Homo sapiens: one gene and its partners. The protein of the gene in region 7 purifies or fractionates together with the protein of the main gene of each other region. This does not show direct contact. Each region holds a gene or a part of one and is shown on either strand. Other genes may lie near its edges.

Region 1 (4,678 bases), on a different chromosome or scaffold from region 7:
TGCCCAACGAAGGTTGTATAAACTACCTTTCCTTAGGTCTGGAGTGTCGGGTCAGTCAAGAAGGGACCCTTTTAGTTATTAAATAGTATCTTTGCAGAATCAGGGCCTGGAATTGGTTCACACAGATTGTTTCTCCTGGCACGCTGAGTAGTTGGGAAACTGTGACGTGAACACCAGTTAGATCAGCCAGTAGGGAAGAATTCTTTTTTTTTTTGAGACGGAGTCGCCCTTCTCTGTCACCCAGGCTGGAGTGCAGTGGTGTGATCTCGGCTCACTGCAGCCTCCACCTCCCAGGTTCAAGTGATTTTCATGCCTCAGCCCCCCAAGTAGCTGGGACTACAGGTGTGCACCACCACACCTGGCTAATTTTTGTATTTTTAGTAGAGACGGTGTTTCACCATGTTGGCCAGGCTGGATTCGAACTTCTGACCTCAAATGATCCACCTGCTTTGGCCTCCCAAAGTGCCGGGATTACAGGCGTGAGCACCATGCCCAGCCCAGAGTTCTTACTTTTTGAGAAAAACAAGCCTCTGAATTCTGTACACTCTTGGATAAGATACTGGATGTGGGGGTGGGAGCCCTGCTGAAGCACCATACCTGTGACTCACCTTTCCTCTCCTATGGTAGTGGCACAGGAGGAAGAGGGCACTTCGGCCCATTTCACACGTTTCTACTGCTGCCAAGAAGCCTAGTCATAGACCCCTTACCCCCAGAACCAGTCTAACCGGAGAATATTATGGAACAAGAAATCGGCATTCTCTGTTTGATTCTGTGCTGCCCTAGTATTTCTCTCATCCTAGTTGGCCCGCACTAGAGAGGCTGCCCTTGGCCTCATCACTGAATCCTCCAAAAGCATCTTCAATGCGTGTCTGCCTGAAAATGCAGCCTGAAATGTCCTGGACCCCTGAAAATGTCCTAACCCAGCAGTGAGCTTCATTGGCTGGTGACCAGAGCCCTCCTAAATCACTCCCTTGACAGGTGGGCCAGCTCCTGCCTTTGGGTGGTCTTTCCCTTCCTAGTGCGTGTGCATCCTGTGAGGCACTGGCAGGAACAAGAGTTGGAGCCAGGACTGGCCTGAGAATTATTCTGTCGTCTGACCTGGGAGACAGCGCCCTCAGCAAAAAGGGCCTGGCGCCATCATTTGAAGTTGGTGTGTAGCACCCACCCTCCAGTCAGATCACAGATGGGAAATCGAGAACAGAAGGTGAGAAAACAGATTCCACGTTCACATGATTATTCTTGTTTATTGAGGTCTCTTTATTCTCCACGGGTGCTTTTTTCTTCAAGTAAACAGAGCAGGCGCAAATATCTATAATGAATAAATTTATTGTCTTACAAAAATCATTGTCTAGAAATATGGGAATACAAGAAAAGATATTTGCGGTCAGGTGTCTGGTGGTCAACAGCCAGTACAGTTCATAAAGGGGGAAAATCCAAGATTCCAAACCCACAGGACAAATTCTTCCTAATAGATGTTAAAGCTTTTAACCCAAAAGGTTTGTGTTTTCAAGCACATTGCAGAGGATCAAGGATTTAGAATTAACACTGATTCATTGTCACTGAATGTCTGTAATACCACTTTGACTAGAGAGGTACATGATATGAAGCACAGTCAAAACTGAATACATTAAATTGTTATAGAGGCGAATGATATATTCAACATTGTCTTAGTACTGTAGTGTCTAAGGCACTTTCCGTAATGTCAGTTTGCTTAACTACCAACCAAAAACAGGATGCTAAGTGTTCACTGTAACACTGTCCAAAGGGAAGGGAGAAGGAAAAATGAAGGAGTCACACCCACTGGCATGTCAACATTCAGGAAGATGGCATCTGTTCTGGAGGCTCCATAAACCTCATTGACAAACTTGGAACAAGCCTCGGACACAAAACCAATATTCCCATTTTGGGCTCAAAGCAGCGGCTGAATTTGCAAGGTCAGCATGAGGGCCCGGCTGGCGATGGGGAGGGGCCTTCCACCAGCTCGGCTTAGGGGTCCACGGCTGCTTGCTCCTGACGTGAGGAGGGCGCCGGCAGAGCCAGGCGGTTCGGGAGACCATCTGGAAGTCTACATGATCCATGGCTGCCACCTGGGGCCTCAGCTGCAGTGTGGCCACTATCCCTTCTATGCACAGACCAGCCCTCGCCAAGGCCAGTTCACATGAGTAGATGCGGGACACCATCGACTCGAGGGGCAGGGCCCCCCTTGGGGGATGGACATGGTAACCCCAAATGGGTGTTGCTTCCGATCCAGCCCACCCCTCCTACTCTTTCCAAAGCCCCTTTCACAGTTTGCTCACTGAAATAGCATTGATCATTATTTGAAGGAAATGAGAGAGACAAGTGCAGTTTAGAGTCCACAGTGGTCTAGGAGACTTGATGTGGCTGAGGAGTCGGGGGCCACGTGAACACAGAACTAGGTTACCTGTCTGTATGACAGAGAGCATGCAGAGCGACTGAGTGACGACCACGGCGCTGCCCCAATAACCCAGCGACCCGCAACCAAGGGCCTGGAGTTTGTTTTAAAAAGGGTCTTACCATGTTTTATAAAATGGTCTCTTGATGACTATATGGAAAATAGATGCAATGATGAAACAATCTGTTTAATATATGTGTCCTGTGTGTGTCTATATATAAAAAGGGGAGCAATTGTACCTAAGTCTGAAGCAGGATACAGTATGCATAGGCTGGAGAGCCTTAAGACACAGTTGATCTTTCAGGAAGGAATCCCGTAGCTTGCCAATTTCCGAAATCTGCAGGAGGCCCCGGGTGCATTCCTAACTGTCCCACTGTATTGCCTCCTCTGGCTTCCTGCAACTTTACTCTGACTGGGGTGGCTGCGTCTCGTTGACATCACTGGTCTTACTTTCTGTGTCATCGTCGGAGAGCTCCAGGGAAGCTCCTTCAAGGTGCAGCTGGCGCCGGCCAGATCGGCTGGAAGAGAAGCTGATGGGGCCACCCCGCCTGGAGAACACAGGAAGCAGATGTGTGTGGGTAAACAGACAGGAGCACATGGCTGTCAATATGTTCAACCACTCAATGCCACGGAACCTTCCCCTTGCACCCCCTCCTCGGACACACGACCTTGTGGGGGTGGCGGTACGATGGGGAAGGACTGCGTGCTTTTCTGCCTCTCCCACAACCCTGCCTGCAGAGTACGCGAAGCAGGGTCCTTGGAGAACTGGGGAGGACTTGATTCAGCCTAGGACTGTGTGATGGAAATGGTAAGGAAGACGGATTAAGGCCAAGCTCTACCTGCTAACCAGGGAATCAGCCAGATAGCAAAGTGGGCCACATAGGGACTCTGTTGCATATTCTTTGTTTCGGCGTTTTTATAACCATTTAAAAATGTAGAAACCATGCTTAGTTTGATGGCTGTATAAAAGCAGGGTATGCACCAAATCTGCCCATTGGCCAGATGTGCTGAAACCTCCGCCGACCTGGTCTTCTGGGGCAGAGACTTCAGCTGTAGCTCTCTCACGCTCTGCCCTCTCACTGGTACAGAGCAGATCCATTGTGGTGAGGAGGACGGTGCTGAGGAGGGCTGATGGCACCAGGTCCCAGGAGGAGCTCCTGCCCTGCTTTTTAAGAGAGGCTGGGAGCTCACTTCACTAATGGATATCTGGACAGGGATGGATGCCTGACCCAGCTCCAGCCTGGTGTGGTGGATTAGTGTGGTCCTCTAGTGACTGGCAATGAATAGGGCCGCCTCCTCTTTTATTCTCCCCAAGGACGACTATAAAGGTCAGAAATCTTAAATGAAGTGGTTCGGGAGAAAGAATGGGTCACTGGGTATGGATCTAAGTAAACTTCCTCTGACCAGCTGCACCCCGAGCCTAAGCTAACCCACAAAGCAGCTGCCTGTCAGCTCGGGGCCGCATGCCTGCTCACCTCAGCCGGTTCTTCAGGGTGCTGACCTCGCGGCTCAGGCCCTCGTTGGCCTCGGTGGCATCATCCAGTTCCCGCTGGAGTTTACGCCGAGATGCGTTGGCACGCGTCGCTTCTTCTTCTGCTTCCTCCAGCTGGCGTTTAAGCTGCTTCATCCGAGCGTTGGCCTTCTCCATCTTGGGGAGGGTACATGAACCAAAACAAACCAAACTGGTGAATCCAGTGTCGGCCTCTCTGTACCCCGAGCGTGGCAGTGTGGGGCTCTGCCTGTTACCCTTGTGAGCACGCGTGTACACGGATGTACACGCGTGCCTGGGGGCTGGTCGGAGGCTCTGTAACCGGCCTGCCGCTCTCAGCAAAGCTAGCATCTACAAAGCACACTAGGCCAAAAGAAATGAAAAAGTACTCAAGACTCTGTTTTTACCAGTGAGTTTTCTGCAGAAAAATGACAGCGTTTACTGTCTTCACACACGTGACCTAGGGGACTGAAAGGGAATTGCTATTCTTGCAAAACGTGGAAGAACCAGCAATGTGGGACAATCCCCAGCCCAGAAGATGGTACAATGCATCTTTACACCTCCTTTCAAGGATGGGCATCTCAGATACTAGACTTGGATTCAAGCAGAAAGCCACCCTGGGATGACATGCCACAGAACTAAGAGCCTCCCTTTTGGACCCTTCATTCCTGAGCCACACAGGCACTGGTCAGTGCTTCGTGGGTCCAGCGCACACCACCCTCAACTGTGCTCCGTGTTGCTAGGCCCCAAGGGTGGGGGTGGGAAGGGAAGGCCAG
Region 2 (4,678 bases), on a different chromosome or scaffold from region 7:
GGTCCTAAGAGTTAACAGGCTGATTTGGTGCAGATCCTTGTGTTGGGAGCACATTCATCCTGTAACCCTTCATTAAATGCATTAACTGAGAAATAATTTTACCCTACCAAATTCCTTCTTAATCAGTGTTCTAAAGGAGTAAAAACATGGGATAGATACAGAGCTATACGTGGAAAGAGAAACAGTGCATTGTTGACACCAAGGTTGACTGTTCTGCTACATGGCCGTTGCACACTGCACTTCCTCCTGTAATTAAGCGATCGCTAACTTTTTTTGAGACAGAGTCTTGTTCTGTTGCCCAGGCTGGAGTGCAGTGGCGCGATCTCAGCTCACTGCAACCTCTGACTCCCGGGTTCTAGAGATTCTCCTGCCTCAGCCTCCTGAGTAGCTGGGATTATAAGCGCCCGCCACCACACCCAGCTGATTTTTTGTATTTTTAGTAGACATGGGGTTTCACCATGTTGGCCAGGCTGGTCTCGAACTCTTGACCTCGTGATTCGCCCACCTCAGCCTCCCAAAGTGCTGGGATTACAGGCGTGAGCCACCACACCCGGCCCGCAATTGCTAACTTTCTTAGGAAACCTCACATTGTCCCAATAGCCCCACTCAGTATTGTGACGGGCCCTGTGGTAGTGCTGCTGGGCCTGGTGTTGCACTGGAGGCTCTTGGTGAGGATAGTGGTCAGGCCCACAGCCCCATTTGGCTTTTAGTGCTGCCACTGCCTCAGGAAAAATGGGAACCATGTCTCTTTTGGAAAGGTTGTCTCTAAGACTCAAGATCTTGTGGGTATTTGGGTTTTTACTAGAATTTTCTTTTGAAATAGGTCGCAGCAGTTGTGGTAGAAATTTCTGGGTTAGTGGACTCTCTTCTACAACCAGAGCTACAGATTTGAAGAATCTTTTCAGCAAATATGGGAAGGTAAGTGCCAGAGCTTTTCTGGAGAAGATACTTTGAAACCAGCGTTGTGTGGCCTTTACATGGAGGTCCTCTCCCCTCAGTGAGTTCTTTGAGAGATACCAAGGAGCTTACACTTGCTAATGGCTGGGGAGGGTCTGCCCGTCCACAGGTAGAGGTGAGAGTGGTGTGGAAGCTTCCAGAGCCCACATCACCACTGTATTTCCCTCCCTTCTCTGCGAGCTTGCCCCCTTCCCTGTGATGGCTCGTGGATCCATTTCTGTGTCCTCAGGACGTCGCACTCAGGCTGGGCTGCCAGGGTTGGCTGGTGGGGTGCTGGTCAGCATGTCTGGGAGACAGCAGTGTTCTTAGAACAGTGTTCGTGATGCTGGAACTCAGAACTCAGAACAGGGACCCTGGAGTCTGATGATAGGGGTCCTCACCACGGGTGTCTTGGGTCCATTGACTGAACCTCACCTCAGCAGCTGGGGGCTCTCAAAGTTGCTGCCTCAGTTCACCACTGGGGGCAGTTCTAGTGGCCTCTTGTCTGCAGCACCTGCCTTTCCTGAGCCCGTGAAGGTGGGGCTGGTGGCACCAGCCCCCTACCTGCAGTGCCCAGCGCAGCCGCCTGGCCCTCCTCCCTGTGCTTTCTCACTCCCTTCCTCCCTGGTGTTTCCCAGACTTGCCTCCCAAACAGCCTCCTGCATTCAGGGCTCCTCGTCTCTCTCAGAGTCGGTTTCGGGGACTACCAAAGGAAGGAGTCCAATCCTTTGTGTTACACAGTGAGGGTTCAACACATTGCAATATAGAAAACCAAGTGTTTTCCCTGATACTGACTTCGAAGAACTTAAAAGAGGATAAAACAGGCTGGGTGTGGTGGCTCACGCCTGTAATTCCAGCACTTTGGGAGGCCGAGGTGGGTGGATCACGAGGTCAGGAGTTTGAGACCAGCTTGGCCAGTATGGTGAAGCCTGTCTCTGCTAAAAGTACAGAAATTAGCCGGGCGTGGTGGCGCATGCCTGTAATCCCAGGTACTTGGGACGCTAAGGCAGGATAACAACTTGAACCCAGGAGGTGGAGGTTGCAGTGACCCGAGACCGTGCCACTGCACTCCAGCCTGGGACAGAGCAAGACTCCATCTTAAAAAAAGAAAAAAAAAAAGGATAAAACTAATTATGTCATTATTACGGACATAACTAAGGGCTTCTTGAGCCTCAGTGATACAAGGTGTGTGGCTGGCAACACCTGCGCCAAGTCTCCCCTACTAGACCCCCTTTCCTGACTCCATGGCGTCCCCCAGCGGGTGGGTGTGCTCAGTGGGGAAGTGTTGCCCTGGAGACTGTAGTGTCTTGAGCGCAGCAGGCCTGATGTGGGTTAATTAGAGGACCGGGCCTCTCTGAGAATGTCCTCTGGGACTAGGATTCCATGTGGCATGATGAGCATGATTACCAGCCTCGGCCACTGGCTGCTGCAGGGCTTTTCCTGAGCCATGGTGTCTTCTGCCGTCAAAGGGCGACCCTAACTGCATCCTGCTGGAGTCGAGAAAACCAGGTAGACTGGAAAGGATGTGTCTACAGTAACTGAAACACATCACTGCGTTTTGTTACAGTCAATGATAGGGCAGATCTGAGTTCCAGAGCACGGCTCACAGACCTTTCCTTGCATCAGTCTGTGCCGAAGTCTTTTTTTTTTCTTTTTTCTTTTTTTGCCCACATTACATCACTTCATAATTTACCACCTACGTAGCATGACTGTATATTTGGAATCATTTCTTCACAAGTTTTAGACCATATTAAAGGAACACTGGCAGAACCCTGTTTGATTTCCCTTTCGTCTGTTCCCCTACATTGCCCTCCTGGCCCCCTTGAGGAACTAGATGAGCGATTAGAACTGGCCAGAGGTCCTTGGAGGAACAACAGCGAAACAGAAGCATTAGTAGCATTGTCCTCCCCAGTCTAACACTTGTCGGACCCCTGATGAGCAGACTTCCCTGTGGGGTGTTCATATCCCCATGCCCCGCTCAGTGGGCTTCATGTCTGAGTCATATTTGCCTGCTTTCCTTTGAGGTGGTGGGCGCCAAGGTTGTGACAAATGCCCGGAGTCCTGGAGCTCGCTGTTACGGTTTTGTCACGATGTCCACAGCAGAAGAGGCCACAAAATGCATTAACCACCTGCACAAGACGGAGCTCCACGGAAAGATGATCTCCGTGGAGAAAGTGAGTGGCCGTTTTCTTCCCAGGATATAGCCCACATTAGGAAATGGGGGTAATACTTGATTCTCTTTTTCAGGCCAAAAATGAACCTGTGGGAAAGAAAACCTCTGACAAAAGAGACAGTGACGGGAAAAAGGAGAAGTCGAGCAACAGTGACAGGTACCCCTCCTTCCTGGCTAAATTAAAGGGGCAGGGTGTTTTTTGTTGTTGTTGTTTTGTTTTTGAGATGGAGTCGCGCTCTGTCGCCCAGACTGGAGTGCAGTGGTGTGATCTCGGCTCACCTCAACTCCACCTCCTGGGTTCAAGCAATTCTCCTGCCTCAGCCTCCTGAGTATCTGGGACTAAGGTGTGCACCACCACACCCGGCTAATTTTTGTATTTTCAGTAGAGATGGGGTTTCACCATATTGGCCAGGCTGGTCTTGAACTCCTGACCTTGTGATCCGCCTGCCTCGGCCTCCCAAAGTGCTCGGATTACAGGCGTGAGCCACCATGCCTGGCCGGGGCAGGGTGTTTTAAACAGAATCTCACTCTGTTGCCCAGGCTGGTGTGCAGTGGCAAGATCTCTTTTCATTGAACCTCCACCTCCCTGGCTCAACCAATTCTCATGCCTCAGCCTCCCGATTTGCTTGGATTATAGCCATGCCCATTTGTGGTTTTAGTAGAGATGGGGTTTCACCATGTTGGCCAGGCTGGTCTCGAACTCCCGGTCTCATGTGATCCGCCCGCCTCATCCCCCCAAAGTGCTGGGAATACAGGCATGAGCCACCACGCCCAGCCAACATGTCTGTTTTTTATAGATCTACAAACCTTAAGAGGGATGATAAATGTGACAGAAAAGATGATGCTAAGAAGGGTGACGACGGAAGTGGAGAAAAGAGTAAGGACCAAGATGATCAGAAACCTGGCCCCTCAGAGCGATCTCGAGCCACAAAGTCAGGTGGGCAGCTCATGAGCCCAGGAGATTCTGTCTTGTTTCTGTGCCTAGTGGAGTTTGTTAGTTTGCTGTGATTAGCTGGCAACGGAAACTGGATTCATGTTGCAGAGGGTTTTTCTCATCTGGGTATTCTTGGTTTTCCACTTACACTTTCCCCGTCTTTTCTGTAGGAAGTCGAGGGACCGAACGGACTGTAGTAATGGATAAATCCAAAGGGGTGCCTGTGATTAGTGTAAAAACGTCCGGGTCCAAAGAGAGAGTGAGTATTAATTTTCTAACTAGGGTATTTTGCTCTTCTTTTCAGTTTGTATTTCTGTGTGCGTCTTAGGGAATTACTAAGCTTCATTTGAAAAAAGCTTTTGTCGGCCGTTTCGAAAATGTAGAAATCTCAAACTATTTTTTTTGAGACAGGTTCTCACTCTGTTGCCCAGACTAGAGTGCAGTGGTGCGATCTTGGCTCACTCCAACCTCCGCCTCCCAGGCTCAAGCGATTCTCCTGCCTCAGCCTCCCGAGTAGCTGGGATTACAGGCGCACACCATTATCTTTTTAGTAGAAACAAGGTTTCACCATGTTGGCCAGGCTGGCCTCGAACTCCTCACCTCAGGTGATCCGCCCGCCTCGGCCTCCCAAAAGT
Region 3 (3,345 bases), on a different chromosome or scaffold from region 7:
CGCGTTCTACCGTATTTACCCCGATCTACCGTATTTACCCTGGTCTACTCTATTTACCCCAGTCTACCGTATTTACCCCGCCTACCGTATTTATCTCGGTCTACTGTATTTACCCCACCTACCGTATTTACCCCAGTCTACTCTATTTACCGCAATCTACTGTATTTACCCCGTCTATAGTATTGACCCCGGTCTACCGTATTTTGCCCTGCCTACCATATTTACCCCGCCTACCGTATTTACCCCGGTCTACTCTGTTTACCCCGGTCTGCTCTATTTACCCCGGTCTGCTCTATTTACCCTAGTCTACCGTATTTACCCCGGTCTACCGGTGACCTCAGTTGGATGCCAGGCCCTGCTGGGCCTCGTGTAGGAAGTGGACACTGGAGTACAGCTGGGGTGGCCAGTAGGGTTCATATCGTGGGCCAACTGCCCTTGATTGGTAGAGACTGCTCAGAACCCTGTGTTGAAAAGTCTGCGTCTTCACTCGGGTCGATTGGTGATATCTGCCCTGATTACAGGCATTGGTTGATGTGCCGTGTTTTTGCCAACTCAGTATTGGATGATGCTAAAGGGCCCACCCAGTAACCTTGAGTATTAGTGATCTGCTGCTTACAAGACCCCAAGCTGGAGCTGAGTCTCAGGGCCACCAGGGCCTGATGGGGTGGGGAAGCATTACCAAGGCCAGTTTCAAAACCCCGCAGTGCCTTCATGACCCCGCTGGGGAGTGCTTGGTGGCGGCAGAGGGTCAGGAAGTGGAGGGTTGATGGGCGTGTGGGGGGCAGGGCTCAGCCTCCTGGTGCTGAGCCAGAGAGGGACCAGCAAGCGGGTGAGGGAGGCTGTCTCAGGTCCTAAGGCTGGCTCTGCCCCCCCAAGATGGTGCTCCCCACCATGACACTCTCCTCACCCCCCTTGTCTCCTCAGCTGCAGCAGAAGGCCGTGGCTAGTGAGATCTTCAAGGGCAAGAAGGATAATTACCCTCAGAGTGTACCCAGGCTCTTCATCAGCACTCGGCTTGGTGAGCCCCTGACTTTCCAGCACTCAGACCTTTCGTCACCATCCTGGTCCCCCATTGCCTCCACTGACTTCCCTCCCCGCCATCTGAGTTGCAGGTACAGATGAGATCAGCCCCCGAGTGCTGCAGGCCTTGGGCTCTGAGCCCATTCAGGTAAGAGCCTGCCTGCAGCCCTGAGTCCAGCAGCACGGTGCTACTGCCTGAGAGCTGAAGGCAGGTCAGGGCAGGGGCGGAGCCTTGGGAGCCTCTCCCCAGCCCCTTCAGCCTGGCCTCTGTCCCCAGTATGCGGTGCCTGTTGTGAAATACGACCGCAAGGGCTACAAGCCTCGCTCCCGGCAGCTGCTGCTCACGCCCAACGCCGTCGTCATCGTGGAGGACGCCAAAGTCAAGCAGAGGATTGATTACGCCAACCTGACCGGTCAGCCAGGGTCCAGGGCTGCAGGGGGAGGGCCCTGCTCTGACCCTCGACCTCTGACCTTTGCCCTCTCCCCTCAGGAATCTCTGTCAGCAGCCTGAGCGACAGTCTTTTTGTGCTTCATGTACAGCGTGCGGACAATAAGCAAAAGGTGCCTTTTCATGGATGGGGAGGAGTGGTGGGGGATGGGGGAGGTAGATGGGGAGGTGGGGTGGATGGGGGAATAGGGGGTGTGGGGGTGGATGGGGAGGTGGGAGGGTGGATGGGGGTAGATTGGGGGGTCAGGAGGTGGATGGGGAGGTGGGAGGGTGGATGGGGGTGGATTTGGGGGTCAGGAGGTGGATGGGGAGGTGGGGCGGGGGTTCCTCAAGTTCTGGGCAGGGCCTGACCCCTCCTCCTGCCTGGCCCCCCAGGGAGATGTGGTGCTGCAGAGTGACCACGTGATTGAGACGCTGACCAAGACAGCCCTCAGTGCCAACCGCGTGAACAGCATCAACATCAACCAGGGCAGGTGAGGCGCGGGCGGCCCCCGGGGACAGGGCGGGGGTGGCGAGGGGGCTGTGTGGGCACCCAGGGACAGGGTGGGGGTCCACCTTAGGGTTGGGGGTCTGCCTCCATGGAAAAACCCTCACCCACCCCGTTCCCCCAGCATCACGTTTGCAGGGGGCCCCGGCAGGGATGGCACCATTGACTTCACACCCGGCTCGGAGCTGCTCATCACCAAGGCCAAGAACGGGCACCTGGCTGTGGTGAGTGGGGCCTGCTTTCCCGCTTATGGCCTGGCTGTGATAGCCAAGCCTTCCTTGGCTGTGCTTGGCAGAGCCCAGGCACCTCACCATGGGCCTTCATCCAGAGGCCATCATACCACCTCTTCCATCCCTTGGCCCACCCATGAGGGCCAGAGAGAGCCCCTCAGTGCAGAAAGTTGTAAAGGTGGCAGCACGGTGGCTCATGCCTATAATCCCAGCACTTTGGGAGGCTGAGGCGGGTGGATCACCAGAGGCCAGGAGTTTGAAACCAGCCTGGCCAACATGGCAAAACCCATCTACTAAAAAAATGCAAAAGGCTGGGTGCAGTGGCTCACACCTTTAATCCCAGCACTTTGGGAGGCCGAGGTGTGTGGATCACCCGAGATCAGGAGTTCGAGACCAGCCTGGCCAACATCGTGAAACCCCATCTCTACTAATAACACAAAAATTAGCCGGGCGTGGTGGTGCACGCCTGTAATACCAGCTACTAGTGGGGGCTGAGGCGGGAGAATTGCTTGAACCCAGGAGGTGGAGATTGCAGTGAGCTGATATCATGCCACTGCACTCCAGGCCTGGGGAACAGAGTGAGATGTCATCTCAAAAAAAAAAAAAAAGGCCAGGCACAGTGGCTCACGCCTGTAATCCCAGCACTTTGGGAGGCGAAGGCAAGTGGATCACCTGAGGTTGGGAGTTCGAAACCAGCCTGACCAACTGGAGAAACCCCATCTCTACTAAAATACAAAATTAGCCGAGTGTGGTGGCGCATGCCTGTAATCCCAGCTACTTGGGAGGCTGAGGCAGGAGAATCGCTTAAACCCGGGAGGTGGAGGTTGCGGTGAGCCGAGATTGCGCCATTACACTCTACCCTGGGCAACAAGAGCAAAATTCCATCTCAGAATTTGTATACAAAAAAGTTAGCCTGGTGTGGTGGCGTATGCCTGTAGTCCCAGTTGCTCAGAAGCCTGAGATGAGAGGATTGCTTGAGCCCAGGAGGTTGAGGCTGCAATGAGACCCAAGATCTCACCACTGCACTCCAGCCTGGGTGACAAAATGAGACCCTGTCTCAAAAAAAAAAAAAAAAAAAAAAAGGCAGCACGGCAATGCAGGGAAGATACATAGGCTGATTGGGGGTGCCAGGAGGGAGGACAGGCTCACAGGCTCACGCT
Region 4 (4,678 bases), on a different chromosome or scaffold from region 7:
TGTATAATTTTTGAGATGAGATTTTACTCTGTCACCCAGGCTGAAGTGCAGTGGCACAATCTTGGCTTGCTGCAACCTCTGCCTCCTGAGCTGAAGTGATCCTCCCACCTCAGCCTCCTCGGTAGCTAGGACTATAGGCGCATACCACCACATCCAGCTAATTTTTGTATTTTTTGTAGAGATGGGGTTTCGCCATGTTACCCAGGCAGATCTCAAACTCCTGGACTCAAGCAGTCCACCCACCTCAGCCTCCCAAAGTGCTGGGACTACAGATGTGAGCCACCACCCCTGGCCTATATATTTTTTAGTGAAACAGAAGGTGAGATTAGGCCTGGTGCAGTGGCTCATGCCTGTAATTCCAGCATTTTGGGAGGCTGAGGGGGGCAGATGGCTTGAATCCAGGAGTTTCAGACCAGCCTGGGCAACATAGTCAGATCTGGTCTCTTTAAAAAAAAAAAAGTGAGATTATTCACTTGGGGGTTGATAGCTTTATTGAAATATAATTCATGTACCCTAAAATTTACTCATGAAGTGGACAATTCAATGTATTTTAGTACATATGCTGTTTTGTAACCTTTTTCAATAATAGTATTGTACACATTTTTCCTATATTTATTTATTTATTTATTTTTTTGAGACAAGAGTCTTGCTCTGTCGCCCAGGCTAGATTGCAGTGGTGTGATCTCGGCTCACTGCAAGCTCCGCCTCCTAGGTTCACACGATTCTCCTGCCTCAGACTCCCGAGTAGCTGGGACTACAGGCATATGCCACAACACCTGGCTAATTTTTTGTATTTTTAGTAGAGATGGGGTTTCACTGTGTTAGCCAGGATGGTCTCAATCTCCTGACCTCGTGATCCACCTGCCTCGGCCTCCCAAAGTGCTGGGATTACAGGTGTGAGCCACCGCGCCTGGCCTTTCCTATGTTTTTAATACTTTTCTATAATTTTTTAATGGCTGCATACTGGTGCACTGTCTAGCTGCTCTATAGTTATTTGATTGTTTCCAGGGATAGTTATTGAAAGCATGTGGCCAGTAAGGGGTTTATCGTTGGAATCTGTTGGTTACATATAATTATATATACTTGCATAGGGCCTTATAATCTTTTTTCCTCCTGAATATGTGCACCATTAAAGTTTTAGTATGTGCTTTTTAAAAAGTTGTATTATCAAAATGACATTTTCTTAATATCTTTCAGATTCAATTAGCAGAGCCTCACAGACAATGGCCAAATGTGTCAAAGCTGTCACAGAGGGTGCCCAGGCAGTAGAGGAACCATCCATATGCTGAAGCTTCTACTAGGATCCCAGTTTTGCCGCAGATAATTAATGGACAACTGTAGTGCAGTGATCCTTTACAGGTTTATTTCTTTGTAAAAAAAAATAATAATAATTTGAATCATGTAATATTTAAGGTTATACTATGCCTATTTGAAAATGATATTAGTTATCAACTTTGCAGTTTGAAAAACATGTATTGTGTGTAAAGGTTAAATAACAAAACTATGCAGATGCTCTTAAAAGCATTGATAACCTTTGTGACGAACATAAAGAGATCCTTAAATTATGAGTTGTTGGCTTATCTTCATAAATAATTTGTCTGTAAAATGGATGAAATGAAAAGAGGTTCAATTAAAACCTACTTTTTTCTAGTGCTAAAGAAAAGATTTAAGCACCTTGTCAAGCTGGGTAAATAGGAAAAATACATAATCATGCTCAGATATGTATCTAGGATAATTATAATTAATAATAATCATAGTAACAATGGCTAATGATAATTTAGCTTTATTATATGTGCTAAGCACTCTGGTTTTACATGCATTATCTTCTTTTGTTCTTGCTACAACCCTGTGAGATAGTAGTATTATCTCATTTTACTGATGAAGACTGAAGCCTAGGTATATTAAATAGCTTGCCCAAGGCCACACAGCAAAAGTCACCAACTCAAACCTACTTCTTATTTACTCCAAAGCCTGTTGTTCTTAACTGCAACATATTATTTCGTCTCATTAATGTTGATTCTATAGGTTGTTACTTCTAAAAATTAGTATTGAGTTTAATGGTGAACACATTTTTCTATTTTCTCTTGAATCTGCTTCTATAATGTCATGGTGATTTATGTGGCTTTTTTTTTTTTATAAGTTATACATGTATGCATGTATACTTATGAGACCTCCCTTGGAATGAGGGAGGTCTCAAGAGATATAATTTAGATTCTCATTGATGTTCTGTATTCATTATCCTAACACCATCTGTAGTGTTAAATCAACTAAATTATTTCAGCAATAGGAGACAAAACAACCAGCTTTCATAATTTTTAATTGTCAAAACCAAAAGGAATCAGAATAAGGATCACTGAGAATTTAAAAAAATAAAAAAGGAAGTAAAAATTTTACAATTAGGAGATAATTAAAAATAGATAATTTTTTTTTTTAATCTAAGGTTGGGTGTGGTGGCTTACACCTGTAATCCCAACACTTGGGGGGCCAAGGTGGGTGGATCGCTTGAGCCCAGGCAGTTGGAGACCAGTCTGGGCAACATGGTGAAACCCCATCTCTACAAAAAATACAAAAATTAGCTGGGTGTGGTGGTGTACACCTATAGTCCCAGCTACTCGGAAGGCTGAGGTGGGAGGATCACCTGACCCAGGAGGTTGAGGCTGCAGTGAGCCGTGATTGCGCCACTGCATTCCAGCCTGGGCAACAGAGCAAGACTTTGTTTCAAACAAACAAACAAAACTATGTTCACAATTTATTTGTTTTGTAATCCTTATTCTTTTCTGCTTTCACTAAAGACTCAGCCCAAGTATAGGATGCCCTTTTTCCCTTTGTTTTTTTTTTTTTTTTGAGATGGAGTCTTACTCTGTCACCCAAGGCTGGAATGCAGTGGCATGATCTTGGCTCACTGCAATCACCACCTCCCTGATTCAAGCGATTCTCCTGCCTCAGCCTCCCCGGTAGCTGGGATTACAAGCGCACGCCACCACACCTGGCTAATTTTTGTATTTTTAGTAGAGACAGGGTTTCACCAATTTGGCCAGGCTGGTCTTGAACTCCTAACCTCAGGTGATCTACCTGCCTTGGCCTCCCAAAGTGCTGGGATTACAGGCGTGAGCCACCGCGCCCAGTCTAGGATGTCGTTTTTCTGATACAACAAAGGATAAGGTTTTAGAATAATAGTATGTTACAATATCTTTAAAAACAGCAGGTGCAGTGGCTCACACCTGTAAGCCCAGCATTTTGGGGGTTCAAGGCAGGAAGATCAGTTGAGGCCAGGAGTTCAAGACCAGCCTGGACTGCATAGCAAGATCCTATTTGTACAAAAAAATGTAAAACTTAAAATTGCACAAAATTTGTCACCTGTACCAGCTTTTAGAACTGTTTATCTTATCCTCCTCAGTGATACATCATGAAGTTGTGTGCTTTGCCTAAAATGCCCAGTTACCTGAAATTGTATAAATTCTTGCCAAAAGTGTTTGAACTTAATACAAACTTCCCATCTCTTACCTCTTAGCACTGTGCTCATCTTGAGGGGACATAGTCCCAATTTTGTATTTTATATAATACTGTTAATGAATATGTGTAGACTTCATATGGTTGTGGGTAAGAGAATACTGCATTCAGATAGAAAAGATGCTATATAGCTAAGTTGATCCAGGATCCTTGGGCTACCTGCTAGGCAGCTTGTGGTGAACAATCATAATCTCTAAAAAATACCTTGTCTGGACCGGGCGCGGTGGCTCACACCTGTAATCCCAGCACTTTGGCAGGCTGAGGCGGGCAGATCATTGAGGTCAGGAGTTTGAGACCAGCCTGGCCAACGTGGTGAAACCCTGTCTCTACTAAAAATACAAAAATTAGCCAGGCATGGTGGCACATGGCTGTAATCCCAGCTACTGGGGAGGCTGAAGCAGGAAAATCGCTTGAACTGAGAGTCAAGGCGGAGGTCGCGGTAAGCCGAGATCACACCATTGCACTGCAGCCTGGGTGAAGAAACAAGCCTCCCTCTCAAAAAATAAATAAATAAATAAATAATACCTCCTCTGGGATAAGTAGTGCTCCGTCTGTCTCATGGGCACATATTAGTGTCGTAATGCCAAATACTAAGGTTATTGTAAGCATAAACATTGAAGATAATTGCTAGAGAAAAATAGACTGAAAAAGATGTAAGAAAAATACACGTAGATGAGAGTAACCTGTCTGGTGGAATCATGACATTCTAAGCAGTGAAGGAATCACCAATGAGAAAATCTACAAAGGCTCAAGATCAAGTCTCTTTAGGTGAATAAGGCAATCTAGAAAGACCTTGGAATAATAATACCATTTCCTGAGGACCTTCTAAATAAGTGCCATTAAAGCTTTAAATACATTAAGACTATTCTTCACAAAATCTCTGCTAATAGTAGGTATTAATTGAGACTCAAGAAATATCAAATAACTTATTTATGGCTACACAGCTAGATACTAATGGCAGGAGTGTTTAATTAGAAGTACTTTTACTATCCCAGGTTGCCTCAAATGAAAACATTTTGGACAGCAATGTAAGGTGAATAGCTGAGCATGATGGCACAAGCTATAGCCCCAGCTACTTGGGAGGCTGAGGCACAAGGATTGCTTGAGCAAATGAGTTGAGTCCAGCATGGACAACTGTATTCCTGCAGCCTGCTTGTATTCCTCTCCT
Region 5 (3,500 bases), on a different chromosome or scaffold from region 7:
CATTATCTAAAGAAATCTAAGTTTTTGAAAGTTTTTAAGATCTATAGAAATGACCGGATCTATAGAAACGGCCGGGCGCTGTGGCTCACTCCTGTAATCCCAGCACTTTGGGAGACTGAGGCGGGTGGCTCAGCTGAGGTCAGGAGTTCGAGACCAGCCTGGCCAACATGGTGAAACCCCGTCTCCACTAAAAATATAAAAATTAGCCGGGCATGGTGGCACATGCCTGTGATCCCAGCTACTCAGGAGGCTGAGACATTAGAATCGCTTGAACCTGGGAGGGGGAGATTGCAGTGAGCTGAGATCATGCCACTGCACTCCAGCGTGGGCAACAGGGTGAGACTACATCTCAAAAAAAAAAAAAGATCTATACAAACATGTATTTATACATTTTTACTATTTGTATAATCGTTAAAAATTAACAATTTTAACTAATATTAACTAATCACCTCCGAATGAAGCTAGTTAAAAAGCTGAAACAGGCCAGGCGCGGTGGCTCACGCCTGTAATCCCAACACTCTGGGAGGCCGAGTCGGGCAGATCACGAGGTCAGGAGAGCAAGACCATCCTGGCTAACACAGTGAAACCCCATCTCTACTAAATAAGAAAAATTAGCTGGGCGTGGTGGCGGGAGCCTGTAGTCCCAGCTACTTGGGAGGCTGAGGCAGGAGAATGGCGTGAACCCAGGAGGCGGAGCTTGCAGTGAGCTGAGATGGCAACACTGCACTCCAGCCTGGGTGACAGAGCGAGACTCCATCTCAAACAAACAAACAAACAAAAAGCTGAAACAGTCATTACAATCTAATTTAGGTGCGAAATTTAACACTGCATTGTCTTCTCCATACAATGCTATAAGCCCCAAATAAGCTTTAAAAAAAAGTCAATGAAGAGATTCTGGTAACATATTTCACTTCCCTCTACCACATACTGCCTGGTTAACCCAAGCAAATTGTCGTTAATCTTGTTGAAGCCCTCCCTAACCAAAAGATAAAGAAAAAGTTTAAGCTAGTAGTTCTCTAATTCCAGTTTGCACATAAATCAAAAGGGAAGCTTGCCAACATAGTGAAACCCCGTGTCTACTAAAAATACAAAAATTGGCTGGGCATGGTGGCACGTGCCTGTAGTCCCAGCTACTCGGGAAGCTGAGGCAGGAGAATTGCTTGAACCTGGGAGGCAGAAGGTGTGGTGAGCCAAGATCGCGCTACTGCACTCCAGCCTGGGCAACAGAACGAGACTCCATCTCAAAAAAAAAAAAAAAAAAAAAAAGCCAACTTCAAGATTCCAACCAAATCACTAATATATTGCTCTTCTTGCTTTTCGATGAAAATTCCACATTAAACATGACAAAAAAAAACACAGTAACAACAATAATAATGAATGTACACTATGTGCTAGCCAGTGTGATCTGTGTTTTACATGTATTATTATCTAATTCAATCCTCATAAGAACCACACCAGGTAGGTAATATTGTTACTTCCATTTTATAGATGAGAAAACTGAAGCCTAGAGAAATGAAATAATTTGACCAAGTTAATGAGTGACAAAACCAGGATTGCCTCAGGTCTGCCTATCCTCTTACCCAGGAGCTGGACAAGAAAGCACTGTGCTTAAACGCAACTCTGGAACCCCAGGGCTGTCAGAGAGAGGATTAAGCCTGACGACCAAGTAGTTAGGCAAGTAATACCCTCCCATCTCCTTCCAACCCCAATTCCCACCCCTCACCCAACAAGCTATCCTGACTCCCCACACCCATCACTCCCACACCAAGGTCGCCCACCTCTGTGATGTGTCACACATCCTAGCAGAACATCAGAAGTCTGTCTCTATGTGTGTGTGTGTATATATATGTGTATACATATATATACACACACACACACAGACTTCTGATGTTCTATATGTATATGTATATATGTTCTATATGTATATGTGTGTGTATACATACACACACATATATTGTGTATATGTCTATATACATATATACACACACATATGTATGTATGTCTATATATGTATATGTATATATGTCTATATACATATATACACAATATATGTGTGTATATATGTGTGTATATACATACACACACACAACACACATAAGTACTCTTGTATATACATATATACACATATATACACAATACATATTGCGTATACATATATATACACACTATATATGTGTGTATACATATATACACATATATACACACTATATATGTGTGTATACATATATACACACTATATATGTGTGTATACATATATACACACTATATATGTGTGTATACATATATACACATATATACACACTATATATGGTGTGTATATATATGTGTATATATATATATATATACACACACAACACACATAAGTACTCTTTCCACATTAGTATCTACTACCTGCTTAGTACTAGCAGAGACCCAAATTCCAGCACCACCAAATAAGCTTGAGCAAATTTAACATCTCTGCCCCTCAGTTTCCTAATCTGTAAAATGAAGGTCATAACACCAGCACCACTGAGGTGACACAGTGATTGAGCTAATGTATACAAAAATACTCACTTGGCATAATATCTGACATGGTAGTAAAAGCTCAATAAACAATAGCTGCTATTGGCCAGGCACAGTGGCTCATGCCTGTAATCTCAGCAGTTTGGGAGGCGAAGGCGGGCAGATCACCTGAAGTCAGAAGTTCGAGACCAGCCTGGCCAACATGGTGAAACCCCACCTCTACTACAAATACAAAAATTAGCCAGGCATGGTCGTGAGCACCTGTAATCCCGGCTACTCAGGAGGCTGAGGCAGGGGAATCGCTTGAACCCGAGAGGCGGAAGTTGCAGTGAGCCAAGATTGCACCACTGCACTCCAGCCTGGGTGACAGAGCGAGACTCCGTCTCAAAAAAAAAGAAAAAACAATAGCTGCTATTAAAATTATACTTTGCTAACCTCTTCTCTTACAACACCAACATATCAGTCCTAGTCCCATTTGTTTTTTGCTTGCTTGTTGTTTTTTTTTTTTGAGACAGAATCTGGCTATGTTGCCTAGGCTGGCCTCAAACACCTGGGCTCAAGCATTCCTCCTGCCTCAGCCGCCTGAGTAGCTAGGACTACAGGTAAGCATCACCGTGTCCAATTCTAGTTCCCATTTATTTTCTCTCAGTTTTCTTTGCTAAAAGTGTGATAAATGATGGAACATACTTATATTTATCAAAGCAGGTTGGTAACAGCGCCATAACCCAATAGTCTGGGAGTCTTCGACAGATAGGTCAGAAATATTCCAGAGCAAGTAAGTCATGCAGTAGCCTTTAAATTGCACAATTTTGACAACTGCCTATTTCCCAACTTTAGGGTCAGCCCTGTTGATTACATCCTAGTATGAAGAGTCTATAATTAACTTAATTCAAAACAACAATAAAATGTCAGTACAGGGGCTTGGTCTTAATTTAATCACTGTATCCCTAGAACTTAGAATAGTGCCTGGTCCGTGGTAGACACTACAGTACGTTTTA
Region 6 (4,678 bases), on a different chromosome or scaffold from region 7:
GATTGACAAAGCTGTGGCCTTTCAGAATCCGCAGACTCGTAAGTACATTTCCAGATCACATTTGATTCTAAGATACTGGGTTTTTTAGAAGATCAATTTATAGAAGAAAAAAAATTGCTGTCAAAATTTTTATTTTTATTTTTATTTATTTATTGTTTTGAGACAGAGTCTCACTCTGTCACCCAGGCTGGAGTGCAGTGGCACGATCTTGGCTCACTGCAACCTCCAGCTCCCGGGTTCAAGCAATTCTCCTGCCTCAGCCTCCTGAGCAGCTGGAATTATAGGTGTGCACCACCACACCTGGCTAATTTTTTGTATTTTTAGTAGAAACAGGGTTTTGCCATGTTGGTCAGACTGGAGTTCAGTCTTGAATTCCTGGCCTCAAGTGATCCACCCACCTCAGCCTCCCAAAGTGCTGGTGTTACAGGTGTGAGCCACCATGCCTGGCCAAATGTTTTACTCCTTGAATTTGAAAATATCTTTTTCAAAAATTTGTTATTTAGATTTATTATTCTTTTGTTTCTAAACATTTATAATCATTTTTCATGTTTGATGGTAAGTAAATTGTTTGTAAGATCCTAGAAGTTTTTCCTGTTTCCTTCCCAATGTTTTGTTTTTGTTTGTTTGTTTGTTTGTTTTTGAGACAGGGTGTTGCTTGTTGCCCAGGCTGGAGTGCAGTGGCACAATCTCACTGCAGCCTGAACCTTCTGGACTCAGGTGATCCTCCTACCTCAGCCTCCTGAGTAGCTGGGACTACAGGCACACACCACCGCACCCTGCTAATTTTTATTTTTATTTTTTTATAGAGATGAGGTCTCACTCTATTGCCCAGGCTGGTCTCGAACTCCTGGGCTGAAGTGATCCTCCCACCTCAGCTTCCCAAAGTGCTGGGATTACAGGCGTGAGCCACTGTGCCTGACCCCTAGTGATTTTTAAGAGTTGTTTTGCTTACCCCAAATCCTACACCAGTTTATTGCTGCTGCTATTATTGCTTACTATTGTATTGCTATTATTGTTTAGCCATCTCCTCTTTATTGAGTCTTTCCAAAGTAAGTAACTTAATTTTTTTAATAGGAATCTTTTTTGCATTCATATTTTATGTTTATATAATGTCTAATTATATAATCTTGACAAGTACAACTGGTAATACAAGTCTGTAAGCAAGCGCCGCTGACTCTTGGGAGTCATACAACTTCTGGTGGGAGCAGAAATGTGCAGGAAGAGCAGAAATAGCTCAACTCAGTGGTTCAGCATGGGACAGGCTCCCCTCCACATGCAGGCCTGGGGACTGATGTTATTTCATGATGATGCTTGGTGTCACAGAGGAGCATTATCTTTGTTGCTCAGGATTTCTACTGAAGAAATAGATAGAATAGTACAATTTTAGAAAAGATGACCTATGTGTCCAGAGTGGCTTCTTCCCCACTGGCGGCAGTGAGGCACCAGCCTGCATCTATTCTGCCTGAACAGTTACTGTGTAGTCTCCTGGCTGGTGTCAGCCTCCAGGTTTACGTCTTGAGTCCATCTCCCACACGGCCATTACAGTGATCCTTCTGACGTGAAAGTAAGCCTTCTTATTATCTATGGGATAAAGTCCAAACAGCATATACGTATATGGCCTTGCGTGATCTTACCCCAGCCCACTTCTCTTACTTTATGCTCTACCCTCTTCTCCTTCCAGCTGCAATTCCCATTTGAATCAAATTATTGTTATACTTTATGCCTTTGTTTTGTCTGCTTCCTGTGCCTAAAATGCTGTTCCCAAATGATTTCCCCTGGGAAACACCAGCTCATTCTGTAAGATGGATCCCACATATTACTTGTATTAATTGTTTTCCAATTCCCACTGCCCTTGCCTTGTACCTCTACTGCACTTTTGACACACTGCCGACATTGCACCCATAATACTTTATTTCACAGTTTTTCCTCTTAAAATTTGAGGGCAGGCATTGTATGTTCCACATCTCTGTATTTCTAGCACCTAGCACAGTGCCTCGCATAGGCAAGTTGCCAGGTAATGAGCAACTGAAGGAAATACTGCAGGCAAAAAGGCATTGAAGCAAGAAAGCAGGGAAAGCACCAAGCACCACAGAGGAGTAAGTCCCAGTGGAAGCTCCCATTGGTCCCCTGAAAGCTACCTGACAATCTCCTTATTACCTAGAGAGGAAACCTAGGAGTAAGTAAAATTCAGATTAAATGACTTGTCCAAGGTCACATGGCAAGATGGCGGCAGAACCATAACTAGATGGGGACTTCCCAAAACCCAGGCCAGTATACCTTCCAAGTGATACCAGCTAGGTTAAAGTTAGAAAAGTGGTTTAGGTGGACTCCAGTATATAGAAGCTGCTGCCATGTAATCTTTTTTATTTTTTTCTCAGCACATTCTACTGGCAGAAACTGGCAGTTACTAGAGGTTAAATAATAATAAATTTTAAGTCCTCTTAACATATGAATGCCAGAAGATGACCAAATTTGTATAGGCTTGTTGCTTTCTAGGTTTTAAAAATGTTGTCTTTACTGAAAGTGCATTTCCCTAAATGCTTCTTCACTTATCTCACAGATGTCATTGAAAATTTGCATGCAGCAGCTTACCGGAATGCCTTGGCTAATCCCTTGTATTGTCCTGACTATAGGATTGGAAAAGTGACATCAGAGGAGGTACCAATAAAACATATTTTGAAATGTGCTTGTTTTTCACATTAAATTGAACATCTCCCATTTCAGGTTTGTTTGTTAATTTTTCCTTTTATCTTCTAACTTTAAGAAATTCAGCGTGCTAGCTTTTTCATCCACCTGCTTTTTAACTAAAATTTTATCTGAACAATTTTTGTGTCTCCTTTAAGAAATGTTTTCATGACTAAAGGGACATGATCATTACAGAAAAATTAAAAAGTAAAATCAAACAAAATGAAGGGAAAGAAAACATCTCACATACCTAAAGGCACTCAGTGTTAATACCTGGTATATTTTCTTCTAAACCGTTTTCTGTGTGTATGTATCTTTTTTGTTTGTTTGTTTTAAATACGGGGTCTTGCTGTGTTGCCTAGGCTGGTCTTGAACTCTTAAGCTCAAGCAGTCCTTCTGCCTATGCCTCTCAAAGTGCTGGGATTACAGGCATGAGCCATTGCACCCAGCCTGTGTATCTTTTTTAAACAGTATTTAAATGTTTAAGTATCATAATAGGGGCTGGGCCCAGTGGCTCATGCGTGTAATCTCAGCACTTTGGGAGGCCAAGACAGAGGGATCACTTGAGGCCAGGAGTTCAAGACCAGCCTGGGCAACATAGCAAGACCCTGTCTCTACAAAAAAAAAATATATATATATGTGTGTGTGTATACATATATATAAAATAGGTCCTTTGACTAAAACTCTTTGGTCTCTCTGAATTTGTAAATAAGACTTGAGCCCACTTCCTTAGCTCCTGTTCCATCCTCGCTCACTCATTCACGTTCTTCAGCACACCAGCCTCCGTTTGCTGGCTATAGGGGTTTGTCACATGCCACAGCCATATGTGCATCTTAGAACTTTGTTTCCAAAACATGAAACATTGAATGCTAAATCTACAAGTGTAGATATGTGCGTATAATCTTAATTTCCTATTCCTACCACCCAGACCCAAAAACAAATTTTATCAAAAGACATTAAGAGAAAAATTTGTAATTATCAACACCTTCAAAGTATATCTGACTCAAAAATTCAAGGTTTTTATTCTCGTTTTATTCTTAGTTAGCTGTTACAGAAAACTAAACTGTATCCCTTGCTCTTTTTGACTTATCAATTAACAGTTTGATGCCTTTCATTCATATGGCACTTTTATTTAGAAATTTTAACTTACATCATCCAACTTGAACAGGCAGCCGTTTTCATAAGACTGGACTCTAATGAGTTTTGAAATTTTTCAGAAATCAAATTCACCCTCATGAAGATGTGTCATTAAGTTAGCTAAAACTTAGCAAAAGTTTATCTACAAGGATGGCTATTGTAATACTAGTTTATAATTGTGAAAAATTAGAAACAAGTTAATATCCAGCATTAGGGAACTAGTTAAATAACTTATAGAATGGAACAGTATTCAACCATTCAAAAATATTAGTTGATACATAAAACTCCACAGCATGTTGTCACATAAAGCAATTTATGGATTAGGACATACCAAAAGGTCCCTTTTTTTTAATAAAAGGTATGTATGTATGCATTATAGACAAATATCAAGATGTTAACTGTGATAACTTGGTTATCTCAAAGTTAATAGTATTTTTTAAATGTGTCCCTAGGCTAAAGGAAACTCTAAAGAAATTGGCGCTAGAATACTTGGAGCAATGGCAGCATCAATAGAAAAACATCAATAGAAAAAGAGTATGACTTTCCAAGGTTACTCCATAGGTACAGACACCATTCATTTTAGGGCACGGATTATGATAAATTGATTAAAAGTTCAGTTTCATTACTTTAGCCCAGTGATTCTCAAAACGTTATCACTTTCCTTCCTGAGGAGCCTTTCTAGCCATTTTTTTCTAAACCTCTTACTTTTAATACCACAGATAGAGTTTATGTGCTGTATATTTGTACTTTTTACATAGAAGTCGTAAGTTTTTTTTTTTTCTTAGTTACCCCAAACCAATTTTCACCCATCTGGAAAGGATAGCATTTCTGTTGAAAGTACATGTTTTAGCCCTAC
Region 7 (4,678 bases):
TGAACTCTGTTCTAGGACACAAAGGCATTAACTTAAGAACTGAGACCCTTGGCCTAGCGAGATGGCTCACGCCTGTAATCCCAGCACTTTGGGAGGCCGAGGTGGGCGGATCATGAGGTCAGGAGATTGAGACCATCCTGGCTAACACGGTGAAACCCCGTCTCTACTAAAAATTACAAAAAATTAACTGGGCATGGTGGCGGGCGCCTGTAGTCCCAGGTACTCAGGAGGCTGAGGCAGGAGAATGGCATGAACCTGGGAGGTGGAGGTTGCAGTGAGCCAAGATCGCGCTACTGGACTCCAGTCCGGGTGACAGAGCTAGACTCCGTCTCAAAAAAAAAAAAAAAGAACTGAGACCCAAATTTGCACTTTATCTCTAAAAGTGACTTATTGTCTAGTATTATACATAATTTCCTTTCAAATATGTGAAAAGTAGAGCCCCCATGGCACAGTTATCTTTGGTCATTGGAACGTATTTTGCTTTTTATCTTGGGTAAGAGGCAGATCCACATCACAATCAGTTTGAGGAATAGAAGATTCAAATTCTCATACTAGAAAGGCAAAAAGGCAACAATTTATCCATTTTCCAAGTCATGCCAAGGAACATACCATTTCTGTTGTAGACATGGAAGAATGCAATTTTCCTTGCAAAATATCAAATCCACAGAATAGCAGGAGAGGTTTGTAGCAAAATTCTTCCTTGCAGAGGAAGACATCTGGCTAATGTGTTAACCACAACTAAAGCAGTGTTGATGTTTACTAAGCCCATTCTCCATCTCAGTCCCCCCAAATAATACTTTTTAAGGAAAAAAAACCTGGGAAATTGAGAGACATTGGCTATCAACTAAAAAAAAAAAATCAAGCCAGCTTGCAACAGCAGCTTGAATTATGAATGACAGAATTCTCAACAATAAGGCTCGGCTGTCTTCTCAATGAACCAGAAGTGACTTTTTTAAAAGACAGAAAGTGGGGCCTGGTGCGGTGGCTCACCCCGGTAATCCCAGCACTTTGGGAGGCCCAGGCGGGCGGATCACGAGGTCAGGAGATTGCGACCATCCTGGCTAACACGGTGAAACCCCATCTCCACCAAAAATACAAAAAATCAGCCGGGTGTGGTGGCAGGCCCCTGTAGTCCCAGCTACCTGGGAGGCTGAGGCAGGAGAATGGTGTGAACCTGGGAGGCGGAGCTTGCAGTGAGCCGAGATCGCACCACTGCACTCCAGCCTGGGTGACAGAGCAAGACTCTGTCTCAAAAAATAAATAAATAAATTAATTAATTAATAAAAAGAAAGTGATGATGAGTATGACACAGACCTCTAAGTCATTTCAGTTTTTTGAAGCCTTATTGATTGCTTGAAACAGCTGAAACCAGTTGAGGGCTCATGAGGCATAAACATAGACATCTATAATGCTTCCAAGGGGATTTTTCCTGCTTTCTGCAGAGATGATTGTTGGCTAGAATCGCACCATGGTGCCCACGCCCAGTGGGGCAGCATCAGTAACTGTGACCCTGCCATGGTGACCAGGCCTTGCTACACGATTCCTGGAAAGGCACGTGGAAGGATGTGTGGTCATGTTGCATGCAGCTCCTGCCACAGCATCTTTCCAGGGCCTACCGACTACTACTATTTCTTTTTTGAGACAGAGTCTCTCTCTGTCGCCCAGGCTGGAGTGCAGTGGCGCCATCTCAGCTCCCTGCGACCTCTGCCTCCCTGGTTCAAGCGATTTTCCTGCCTCAGCCTCCTGAGTAGCTGGGACTACAGGCGCCCACCACCACGCTTGGCTAATTTTTTGTATTTTTAGTAGAGACGGGGTTTCATTGTTTTAGCCAGGATGGTCTCGATCTCCTGACCTCGTGATCCGCCCACCTCGGCCTCCCAAAGTGCTGGAATTACAGGCGTGAGCCACCGCGCCCGGCCACGACTACTACTATTCTTTCTCTTTCTTCTCCCTGTCCCTCCCCCTTCTCCCTCCCTCCTCCTCCCCCTGCTCCTCCTCGTCCCCCCCTTCCTCCTCTGCCTTCTTCCCCTCCTCCTTCTCCCTCCTCTTCTTCTTCCTTTTCTTCCTTCTTCCTTTTTCTTTCTTTTTTTCTTTTTTTGAGATGGAGTCTCCTGTGTCGCCCAGGCTGGAGTGCAGTAGCACGATCTCGGCTCACTGCAAGCCCTGCCTCCCGGGTTCACGCCATTCTCCTGCCTCAGCCTCCCGAGTAGCTGGGACTACAGGCGCCCGCCACCACGCTTGGCTAATTTTTTTTGTATTTTTAGTAGAGACGGGGTTTCACCGTGTGTTAGCCAGGATGGTGGCAATCTCCTGACCTCGTGATCCGCCCGCCTCGGCCTCCCAAAGTGCTAGGATTACAGGCGTGAGCCACTGCGTCCGGCCTTTTTTTTTTCTTCTTTTTTTTCTTTTTTTTGAGACAAGGTCTCACTCTGTCGCCCAGGCTGAGAGCAGTGGCGCCATCATGGCTCACTGCAGCCTCACCCTCCCGGGTTTAAGCCATCCTCCTACCTCAGCCTCCTGAGTGGCTGGGACTACAGGTGCACCACCACACCTGGCTAATTTTTGTATTGTCTGTAGAGACAAGGGGGTCTCGCTATGTTTCCCAGGCTGGTGTTGAACTCCTGGGCTGAGGCGATCCTCCCGCCTCGACCTCCCAAAGTGTTGGGATTACGGGCATGAGCCACGGTGCCTGGCCCCACCAGTGTCTGGCTGGAGACATCCTGACAGGGCGAATTCTCCTGCAATGCTGGGTAACCATCATGGTTTGTCCAAATATTGAGTTGAAATCTGTTTCATTTTGCTCACTTGGCTGTTTAGAGCATAAGAAAATAAGATTCTTTGACATGTTTGGAAACAGTGTTTCTGCCCTCCCAATAATGCCCACCACACCCACTTTTTTTCCCTTTAAGCTGAACATCTTTCACAGGAGAGGGATCTGAGACTTCTCTCTAGCCTGATCACCCTCTACTGGACATACTCTAACTTGCAATGTCCTTTACAGCTCCCACCACAAAAGCAGAGATTCAGAAAAGTAGGGTTTGGTTTCTGCTCCGAGGAAAGACCACTGTGGACGTGACAGTCTCTCCTCCCCCAGGCCCTCCGTTTCTGTGCCTACTTCTCCTTATGTGATGACATGGAATAATATGTGATGACATGGAGCCAGTGCCTACAGCAGGTGGTGGCCTCAGATAGGCAGAGAAAGGAAGGGTCCAGAGGTTTCTGATTTTGCCAAGTGCTCCGTGCTCATTGGTCCCTGGGCATCTGCAGGAGAATGGAATATGTTTCCCTTGGAGGAAAGGCATGCATTGCTGAGCATTTGGAGGAAGGAATTAGAAAGGGGGCTGATCCCAGCTCTTTGGGAGGCTGAGGCAGGCGGATCACCTGAGGTCCAGAGTTCGAGACCATCTTGGCCAACATGGTGAAACCCCATCTCTACTAAAAATAAAAAAAAAAATTAGCCAGGCGTGGTGGTGGGCGCCTGTAATCCCAGCTACTTGGGAGGCTGAGGCAGGAGAATCACTTGAACCCAAGAGGTGGAGGTTGTAGTGAGCCAAGATTGTGCCACTGCACTCCAGCCTGGCGATAGAGCAAGACTCTGTCTCCAAAAAAAAAAAAAAAAAAAAAAAAATTGGGGGCTGGGCTAGAAAAGAATTCCTCCAAATCCATGGCTCAGTGGGATAATTTTCTCTTCGTTTTGAGTATGTGGGTCATAGACAAGTATTACTATTATTTTTTATTCCGTGCGAGGAAGTGTATAAATGTAGAGCATTTGGTGACCGTATGTCAGGGAAGGGCTGTTTACTTTTGCACCTTTGCCACAGGCCGGCACGGATGGTTCTGGGCGAGGTGAATCTCTGGGAAAAGGGGCCTTTATTGGCAGAGAACTGGTTACTTGAAGCCTGCAGTGGGAGGAGAGGAGAGTTAGAGTCCTGAGTCCACCCACTGTGTACCTGGCTTCAAGGGAAGCTGGTGATTGTTAAAATGAGCCTCTGACAGGCAGCGCATGTTGACAAAGGCCATTAATTTCATTTTTCAAGGTTGTGCATTGGCAAAACTTGGAATTATTCCCTCAAAGTTTTGATCCTGTAAGTTTAGTCTGTGTTTAGCTCCACTGTACTGTCTGGTGAATACAAACCAAACTGAATCAAATAACCCAGTGCAACCAGCTAACTAACCACCTCCCCAGGTGAAAACTAGGAGGGGCAGGGAAGCGGTGGAAAGAAATGGGTTTGTGGTTTTCTGGTTTGTGGTTTTCTCATTTATATGAGTAGTTGTTATGCTTGAATGTGAAGTTCTTACACTTGAGTGTGAAGGTCACCCCTTCACATTGCATAGTGCAATGCAGATTCTCAGGCCCCGCCATGGAAAGTCTGACAGTGTGTCTAGGCTGTAGCCCCAGAATATGCATTTCTTTTCTTTTTCTTAAAGAGGCAGGTTCTCATTCTGTCACCCAGGCATGTGCAGTGGAATGATAATGGCTCACTGCAGCCTCGACCTCCCAGGTTCAAGTGATCCTCCAGCCTCAGCCTCCTTAGTAGCCACAGGCACATGCCACCATGCCTGGCTAATTAAAAAAAAATTTTTTTTCGTAGAGATGGGGTCTCCCAGTGTTGCACAAACTGGTCTCAAACTCCTTGCCTCAAATGATCCTCCTACCTTAGCCTCCCAAAGTGCTGGG

Evidence for each region.
Region 1: the proteins of FBP1 (region 7) and MYH10 purify together in Homo sapiens (affinity purification with mass spectrometry, with the first as the bait; one large-scale study listed by BioGRID). This does not show direct contact.
Region 2: the proteins of FBP1 (region 7) and SAFB purify together in Homo sapiens (affinity purification with mass spectrometry, with the first as the bait; one large-scale study listed by BioGRID). This does not show direct contact.
Region 3: the proteins of FBP1 (region 7) and MYO1C purify together in Homo sapiens (affinity purification with mass spectrometry, with the first as the bait; one large-scale study listed by BioGRID). This does not show direct contact.
Region 4: the proteins of FBP1 (region 7) and NDUFS1 purify together in Homo sapiens (affinity purification with mass spectrometry, with the first as the bait; one large-scale study listed by BioGRID). This does not show direct contact.
Region 5: the proteins of FBP1 (region 7) and MYO6 purify together in Homo sapiens (affinity purification with mass spectrometry, with the first as the bait; one large-scale study listed by BioGRID). This does not show direct contact.
Region 6: the proteins of FBP1 (region 7) and UQCRC2 purify together in Homo sapiens (affinity purification with mass spectrometry, with the first as the bait; one large-scale study listed by BioGRID). This does not show direct contact.

The regions. Positions count from the first base shown.
Region 1 is NC_000017.11:8,472,988-8,477,665, forward strand, and holds the end of MYH10 (myosin-10), read right to left. Parts: intron 4,062-4,678; coding exon 3,889-4,061; intron 2,962-3,888; coding exon 2,817-2,961; 3' UTR 1,237-2,816; downstream 1-1,236. UniProt on the Homo sapiens protein: Cellular myosin that appears to play a role in cytokinesis, cell shape, and specialized functions such as secretion and capping. Involved with LARP6 in the stabilization of type I collagen mRNAs for CO1A1 and CO1A2.
Region 2 is NC_000019.10:5,650,155-5,654,832, forward strand, and holds part of SAFB (scaffold attachment factor B1), read left to right. Parts: intron 1-823; coding exon 824-918; intron 919-2,960; coding exon 2,961-3,110; intron 3,111-3,183; coding exon 3,184-3,266; intron 3,267-3,906; coding exon 3,907-4,046; intron 4,047-4,213; coding exon 4,214-4,302; intron 4,303-4,678. UniProt on the Homo sapiens protein: Binds to scaffold/matrix attachment region (S/MAR) DNA and forms a molecular assembly point to allow the formation of a 'transcriptosomal' complex (consisting of SR proteins and RNA polymerase II) coupling transcription and RNA processing.
Region 3 is NC_000017.11:1,466,076-1,469,420, reverse strand, and holds part of MYO1C (unconventional myosin-Ic), read left to right. Parts: intron 1-924; coding exon 925-1,018; intron 1,019-1,112; coding exon 1,113-1,168; intron 1,169-1,297; coding exon 1,298-1,433; intron 1,434-1,510; coding exon 1,511-1,581; intron 1,582-1,843; coding exon 1,844-1,941; intron 1,942-2,079; coding exon 2,080-2,179; intron 2,180-3,345.
Region 4 is NC_000002.12:206,120,796-206,125,473, reverse strand, and holds part of NDUFS1 (NADH-ubiquinone oxidoreductase 75 kDa subunit, mitochondrial isoform 1 precursor), read left to right. Parts: intron 1-1,197; coding exon 1,198-1,289; 3' UTR 1,290-4,678.
Region 5 is NC_000006.12:75,755,739-75,759,238, reverse strand, and holds part of MYO6 (unconventional myosin-VI), read right to left. Parts: intron 1-3,500. UniProt on the Homo sapiens protein: Myosins are actin-based motor molecules with ATPase activity. Unconventional myosins serve in intracellular movements. Myosin 6 is a reverse-direction motor protein that moves towards the minus-end of actin filaments.
Region 6 is NC_000016.10:21,962,848-21,967,525, forward strand, and holds part of UQCRC2 (cytochrome b-c1 complex subunit 2, mitochondrial precursor), read left to right. Parts: coding exon 1-38; intron 39-2,560; coding exon 2,561-2,658; intron 2,659-4,678. UniProt on the Homo sapiens protein: Component of the ubiquinol-cytochrome c oxidoreductase, a multisubunit transmembrane complex that is part of the mitochondrial electron transport chain which drives oxidative phosphorylation.
Region 7 is NC_000009.12:94,611,500-94,616,177, reverse strand, and holds part of FBP1 (fructose-1,6-bisphosphatase 1), read left to right. Parts: intron 1-4,678. UniProt on the Homo sapiens protein: Catalyzes the hydrolysis of fructose 1,6-bisphosphate to fructose 6-phosphate in the presence of divalent cations, acting as a rate-limiting enzyme in gluconeogenesis. Plays a role in regulating glucose sensing and insulin secretion of pancreatic beta-cells.